2 linked regions of the Homo sapiens genome follow. The protein of the gene in region 1 interacts with the protein of each later gene in a pairwise test. Each region holds a gene or a part of one and is shown on either strand. Other genes may lie near its edges.

Region 1 (3,814 bases):
TGAGTGGCCCCTACCCCTCTGGACTTCTGCTGCCTGGCCACATGGGAAAATTCTGCATAAATAGAATGGCCTTTTTCACCCCTATGTATGAGAAGCCCATGGGTTGGACCCCAAGGGCAGAGGTCGGTCAACTGCCTCCATCTGGTGTCAGAGTCCTCAGCTTCCATGGCGGGGCCTTTGGCCATGGCTCTGCCCCTCACTGCTCCTAAGACCCCATGTCATGCGCTTTCCTCATCAGCCTGGATCACTCTCCTCCCTGTACAGTGATGATCCAGGTCCAGGTCAGGAGCCAGGTTTGACTCTTCTGTGTCCCCAGCACTGGGCACAGACCATCACAGGTCTATTGAAAATCATGAATGCAGCCTTGTGAACTCAGCACCCAGAGAGCTGGCAGCGTCCCTCCCGAGTCCTGTGCCTGCCTCCGGGATGGGCCCAGGTGACTGCAGCTGCCCCTCAGCCTCTTGGCTCCCATTTCTCCCTCTATCTCATCCTAATTCAGGCTGGCAGAAGAGTCAGGGAGGGGACTTTGGCCTGGCCTGAGCCATCTGTCACTGACTGCTGCATCACCCTCCACATAAATGCCCCAGGAATAGCGCATCCTGAGGGGTCATCTCAGGAGGCCATTTTCTAGGCCTGGCTCTGAGAAGGCAATCAGCTTTATTCACAAATCTCTGCAGGCTGCTTTTCCAGCAGGCTCTCCTGGCTCAGAAACCTCTGGTGTCTCGAGACCTTAGTGTTCAGGCCTAGGTTTCAGAGCCTTAGTCTGTTCGATGCCATCTGGAAGTGCCTCTGTGCATCTTCCCTCCCCCAGGTGCTATTTGGGCCTTTGTCTTCTGGTCAGAGATGCTTCTTTTAGGTGCCCGTAGTGGGAAATGGTAGAAGAGGAAGCTGCAAAGAAGCTGGCACTGTTATGGTCAGCAGGCAGAAGGCCCTGCTGTGATCTTCTAGGGCCCTGGGACCTCCCAGCACAGCTGGGCATAGAAGGGGCCACCAGAACAGCCCGAGGTCCCCCTTGGCTTCTTAAATATACTCTGATTCCCAAGAGGAGCCCAGACTCCAGCTCTCTTTCCGGCACCCTCTAGCCCATTGGCCTTAGCTCTGTGTACCCCTGACCCAGCCCTGCAGCCCCCAGCCCCGAGCTCGAGCCTCGGGGCCTCATGCCGGGCCTGGCAGCAGCCTCAGCTTCATCACAACGTGTGAAATGAGGGTAGCCCATTGCCTTGAGCTTGATGTCTGCTGGGCTGGGGGTTCCATTTCTGAAGCCACCTCTACTTACTCCCTTGAGCTGGATCCCCTGCCAGGCTTGGGGAAGTCTTCTCACCACTGGGGCTCCTCCCTGGCCAGACAGAGTCCCTCCTGCTGCCACAGTGTCCCCCAGTGACCCTCTCTGCCTCCTCATGGCTACTCTGGGTGTGGCCTCACACCCTGACCCATGCACTTCAGCCATTTCGTGCCAGAAAGGGTGGCTGAAGTAACCCCATATCCCATTACTCCTTCACAGCCACTGCCATCCCTGGCAGAAAGGGTGGGAGACAGGCAGGTCTGGGTGGGGAGAGCAGTGTATCTGCAGAGGGACGGTGGCACCAGACCACCTCTGCCGAGACAGTACCCATGTGGATGGGGTGAAAGGAGCCAAGCCTAGGCTGGGGGGCAGGACACCTACGAGATTGTCTGGTTCCTGCCCCTGATGGGCCATGAGGATGTGGCCATGGGCCTCAGCTTCCCTCTCTGACCACAGCCTCTGTGGTCCCCAAATGAGCTCAGAGTCCAACATGCCTGGACCCCGGCCACGGCTTGAGCTCCAGGGCCCGCCAGCCCAAGCTGCCCAGGATGTCTTCATTTCTCTCCTTTCTTCTTCTTGGCCTCATTCTTCTCATCCTCCTCTACTTTGATGGCCACTGTGTCCACACTGTCCTTCTTCTTCTTCTTCTTCTTCTTCTTATCCTCTGTGGGGCAGGGGGAAGAGACCATGTGATAGTGGTGAGACAAGGTCCTGGGGTCTGACTGTCCTGAGGGGAAGAGCCCCAGAACCTCCTACACTCTGCCTTTTTCTTCCTTCTTCCTACTGGAGAATAGGCTCATCGTTCTATTTGCCTCATGCCAACCAATTTCTGTGCTCTGGTCTCCAGGGGCAGGGCTGGGGCCCCTCCCTGAACCTGCTTTGGTTGGAGCAGAGGAACAGGGTGACTCCAGGCAGCAGGACTGAGGAACTGGCTGGCGCAGCAGGGCTCAAGCCAGGGCCAACTCACCTCCTGGGACTTCTGTGAGCTCATTGAGGGGTGGCACAGTCTCCAGCTTGTCTGTGTACATCTTGGCTGCCTTTCGCTGCAGGTACCGGGCTTCGATCTCCTTCCGGGTCCGTGGCACACGACAGTTGAAGACACAGCACAGCGTGATGACTGTAGGGAGGACAGAGCAGGCTTGGCTGGGGCTGGGGTTCAGAGACCCAAGGAATGGCATCCGCCTTCCTTCAGGCCCGCCCCCATCCACCCACATGTGTCTCACCCACCAGACCCTGGCAGGAGGCTCAGCATCTTGACAAAACCCCTGTGGACCCTATGATGACCAAGGTGGCTTTCCTAAGCAGGGCTGACTTCATGCAGCTGCACAGGCCCCCGTGCTTGGAAGGGACCCTGGCTAAATTATGTCACCAGTCCTGGTCCTGAGGGTCTTTCTGACTAGACTGAGAGTCACTGGAGGGTAAGGCAGAGGTCTGCACCATGACTTAAGCCATAGCTTCCTGGGGGCCATCCAGCACTTCCAACCCAGGCCTCCGGGTGTGCAACTTAGCTTCTCCTTCCCACACCACTGAGAGCTAGGCCAAAGTTGCCTCAGTCATGAGAGGACGTGGCTCTGCATGTCCTCCTCAGCCTCCCTGAGGACATCCCTGGGCTCTCCCTGGCTAGGGCGGGAGCCCATGAGAGGGCACAGACCCTGCCCTGAGGCATTCACCTCAGACGGAGTTATTTCAGGAGTGGTTTTCCGGCTGAGGGCAGCTGCACCCACGCCAGTTGGGCCAGGTCATGGAGCTGGCCTGTCTAGGGATGGGTAGGGCAGGTTAGGGCTGCCAGGACCTGGCTGGACTGAGTTTATTTTCCTAAGGCCCCCACAGCCTGACCACCTTGGCCCCAGCCCTAGAGGAGGGGATGGAGCTGGTTCCTATTATAAATCAGATGACCAGACATAACTTCCTGGCAGACTCCTGGGGGCAGAAGGGCCCACGGAGGATTAACCAGGTCTATTTTGGGGAAGATGGATCAGATCTATGTAGCCTGGACTGGAGTACCTTCTGGGGTCATTTTATGCAACCAAGTCAGAACCCCTTCAGACAAATATTGTGGTCCTACTAGGTCTCACCCAGGCTCAGAATAAAAGAAAAAAATCAATGAATGAATGAATGGGATGATCTCAAAGCCTTTGCTGTTGGGAACAGGACTGGACTAGAGTGAATGAATTGGGGAGCCAATAGCATCCAGGCATACACTTGGAGGAGGGTGCTGCACAAGGGCCCCAGCTATAGATCCGACTGTCCAGGGGTGGACCTGAGCAGACAGCAGGCCTTATCCAAGAAGCTGGGTCCTGGATTTCTCCAGAACCTGTGTTCATGCCTGAGACTCGAAGTTGGTACCCAATCCTAACCCTCCCGGCTTAGGCCACCTCTTCTAGCCACCCCACCAGGAACCTCCTTGGGACTATGCCCACTCAGGCTCCATGCAGGCTGGTCCCAGGCCCCGGGAGGCTGGGGCTTCCTAAGGAGCTCAGTGGGCCACTGACGGCAGCCAGAGCCGGGCTCAAACACCACCCCTCACTTCAG
Region 2 (3,816 bases), about 100 Mb from region 1:
ACTGCCTTTGACTACCTGGGTCAAGCAATTTCCCACCAGATAAAACAACTTTTCAAAGCCTTCCTTCTGCTTCCCTTACTTTCCAGCCTGTATCCTTAGTACGTAATTTGTAAACATTGTCACGAAGGGTCCTGATGCTTTAATATATGCAGACTAAAAGGATATGCAAAATTAACCACATCTAAAAGTGACCAAAGCAAGTCTACTCCCTTGTAAAATTATAGAAAGGTTTGCCTTTCAGTACATTAGATCTGCAGCTACATTAGTTGTTTCTGCGTCTTTAGATTTTGCAAAAGGGAACTGAAATCCAGCAAGTCGTATTAGGAGCCCATTCAGAAAATGAACAAAAAAGCAAAAGAAAATGACCCAGAATGAGGTGGTATATTTTTCACTTTGCGTTTTGTAGACATAAGTCCCTTCTTTATAATTTGCAATTTTTTCTGAGAGGTGATGGATTTTCACTTCAGAGGCAAACAATATCATGACAAGACAGCCACAGGAGCCTGCAACAGAAGAAACAAGGTGTTGGGACAAATATTTCCTGATTGTAAGGGACAGGGAAGAGGGTCAATGTGTAAACCAAGGAATTCTCTTACCATCATCCCCATTGACATTATCCACACAAAAAATTATTGCATATTTGTAATCATGAGCCTGATTCTTCAGTCTCTAGGTGGTAGGGCTTGGGTTATGGTTCTGCTCTGAGTGAAGAAGATTTGTGTGTGCGTGTAGGAGTGCAGTGGGAGGTAAGGAGGTGGTTAGAATTAAGCTGATCTTACAAAGACTGGGAGATATTCCTCTTTGCATGATGTGAAGGCTGAATTGCTAGGCACTTTAAAGGCATAATGGTGGAATCAGGCTACAAAGCAGCCACTGCTATGATGTGGCTTCAAGAGAAAATATTTCTCTGTACTTCACAGGCCATGCAGGATAAATGTCAATCATGCAGCCTCTTGTGAAAGGCCCCAGCCTCCCTTCAGAAGGGTTACCACAGCTCCTTCAGCTTTCACTTGGCCACAGCTGCACAAAGGAAAAGGTAGCTATGGATGAGGTATTGAGGTGGCGCACATCTCTATTCTCCTTGTTTGTAACAGAATTCAGATTTTTGGCTAGACATGTGAGTGTCTTGAATTAAGACAGCATTGTTCAACTAAGGGTGGTTGGGAAGTATGGGCGGGATAGTCTTCTTGAACTATACAGGTATTAGGGGCCTGTCCTTTCTTCCCCACTTCCTCCTTCCTGTGGCTGAAATATGGATGCAATGGCTGGAGCCCCAGCATACATTTTGGACCAATGTGGCCCCAGAAATGGAAGCCATATGCTGTGGAAAAACAAGAAAGAGGGAGTCTAAATCCCAGATCCTTGGAGCCTCTGGACCAGCCCTGGACTTCAACCTCTAGATTTTTATGTGTGAGAAAAATAAACATTTGTTTTGTTTAGTACACTATTATTATTTTTCCCCCTCATCTATCACTCATTGGTAGCCTAATTTTAACAGATGTAGCTGTGATTTCGGTGAGATTGCTGTGGGACAGGGGCACTCCATACTGGCTGGAAGCTGGAAACTCTGGTGAGTGTCTCCCCCGAAGATGGACACTGGGAGACTTCCAGATGGGTGGATGGCACAGGGAGCAGAAGCAGGTGGCAGGAGGGACCAGATCAGGAGCACATAGGATGGCCAGGACTCTACAGCGCTTCCACAGCTACTGTTATATCTCAGGCCACCACAATAGGGTTCCAGTTAATAGGAGACTTGCTGGGATGGTTTTCTACCTTAGGTGAAACCAATTTGGGTTCAAACCCTGATTCCTTTACTTACTATGTAAAAGTAGGCAATTTTAATATTCAGGTCTCAATTTCTTCATCTATAAAAGGTGGCTAATATAAATAAAGCATGATTTGCATTTGGCTTTGTAATTGACACATATAAATGCTTACTAATTGGTAGCTATTCATATGGTTTTTATGGATTCCTTTTTTCTTGCAAGTCCTTATCATAATAGCTTGATTTAGGTCAAACCAATTTGGTTTCAAATCCTGATTCCTCCACTTACAATGTCAAATTAGGTATTTTATTTCAAATCCTCAGCCCACCCCATATCAGGGACACCTGACTACATCAGGGTAGGCAACACAAAAGAATGTATTACAGTGTCTTTTTTTTCTCCAAATACTCTCCCACTAATTTTATGTCTCCTTTAGGACAGGTAAATGCTTTTTACTCTTCAGTTAAAGTTAATCCAAATATCCTAGGAGTGGCAACATAATGGCTTGAGTTTCTATTCATTAATTCACTCATTCATTTATTCTCTAGACTTATATGGGGGATAGTTGTGGAGATTTAAACATTAAAGATAATACTCATGATTTTTGCTCTCATGGAGTATAATTTGGCAGAGGACATAAAATCAATTACTAACCAATTACAGTGCATGTAATCAAGGGATAGTAGAGGGGCTGTTACTGAGAGGGTGGGCAGCATTATGGAAGGTTCCTTAGAAGTAGCCAGAAGGAGCTATAGGAAAAGTTAGCTGAGCAGAGGGAGGCTGGACTGTGGGGGGAGAGTACTGCAGGCAGGAGGAGCTACGGTGCAAGTGACAGCCCCCATTCCTTTCCCAAAGGTCAGGCTGGGTTTGGGGTAGAGGCAGAGATTTGGGGGTAGGAATGAGGGGAGAGGTGAGCAGAAAAGACAACATCACATTTCTTCTACTTTAGAATTTCACATAGGACTGGCCAATCAGCTTAATCATCATCAAATAATCAAATAATATAATTTTCTTGAAATTTCACTTTCTACCATCCTCAGAGTGGTAGCTGAGAATATTCCTTTGTAAAATTTTGTCAGCCTATTTTTGTATTCTGAGCTTAAAACCAGAGCTCTCCCCTGGCAAAACCGTATTATTTCTTTATTGTTAGATCCTAACAAAAAGGCTGCAGTGCTGTTTTCTCTTTATCTTTTATTCGAAAATTGTGGAGAAAATGCCATTCCTTTTACCATAAGAGCCTTCTTTGTCTGAGGAGATGGTGAATTTCAGACAGAAGTGAAACATTATTTCCTGAGCACCTGAAAGGAAAATTCAAGCTCGGTTTCCTTTTCAAGTTGTTAAATATTTCAAAGGTACTGCTTTGTTAAGGAGACAGCATTACAGCAAGGCTGTATTTCAAATTCCTAAAGTAAAAGTTACTTGGGGTGTCATAAGACTCAAAGCCTTTTGCCATAGCTAATATTTCAAGCACACAGCCCCCAAAACAAAGTGTGCTGTCTGGTAGTAGAGAGGACAGTCTGAGATCTTGCTCTGGATTCTAGGGTTGATCACGAGGTCAACGTTGTCGTTTCAGGGACAGAGGATAGAAACCCAGCCTGAGTCTCATAACCTTTCAGTGACTGCTAAGAGATATGAAGGGAGACAACTCAGTGTGAACTTGGTATATTTTTGCTTCTCTCTGTCCATGGCTCTAAAAAAGACATGGGATCAAGGATAACTATTTATGACTTATGGACCAAAAGATATGCATGAAGAGTTTCTCTTTGTGGCATGGCTGCTAAGGCTATAAAAGAAGTGTGTAAGTGATATGAGTGATGTGAGAATAAGACTCAACCTACACTCTTCCAGTATGACCCTTTGAATCCAGCAAGAGGGGCTCCTGCTTTGTGCCCCACATTTAGAGGGTTCTGCTCTGTCTCTCTTCTGGAGAGGTTCCTTCCCACAGCATGAGGAATCCTTGAAGTCAATAGAACATACCCATCTGGCATGCCTGACTCACATTTTAGTCCATACTCCTGGGACCCCGGAATTGACTTCGTAAATAGCCCTG

The links.
Region 2: the proteins of TMIE (region 1) and CLRN1 interact in a two-hybrid assay, tested with the Homo sapiens proteins (one large-scale study listed by BioGRID).

What each region holds. Positions count from the first base shown.
Region 1 is NC_000003.12:46,707,711-46,711,524, reverse strand, and holds the end of TMIE (transmembrane inner ear expressed protein isoform 1 precursor), read right to left. Parts: intron 2,400-3,814; coding exon 2,250-2,399; intron 1,947-2,249; coding exon 1,837-1,946; 3' UTR 639-1,836; downstream 1-638. UniProt on the Homo sapiens protein: Auxiliary subunit of the mechanotransducer (MET) non-specific cation channel complex located at the tips of stereocilia of cochlear hair cells and that mediates sensory transduction in the auditory system.
Region 2 is NC_000003.12:150,927,699-150,931,514, forward strand, and holds part of CLRN1 (clarin-1), read right to left. Parts: intron 504-3,816; coding exon 238-503; 3' UTR 1-237. UniProt on the Homo sapiens protein: May have a role in the excitatory ribbon synapse junctions between hair cells and cochlear ganglion cells and presumably also in analogous synapses within the retina.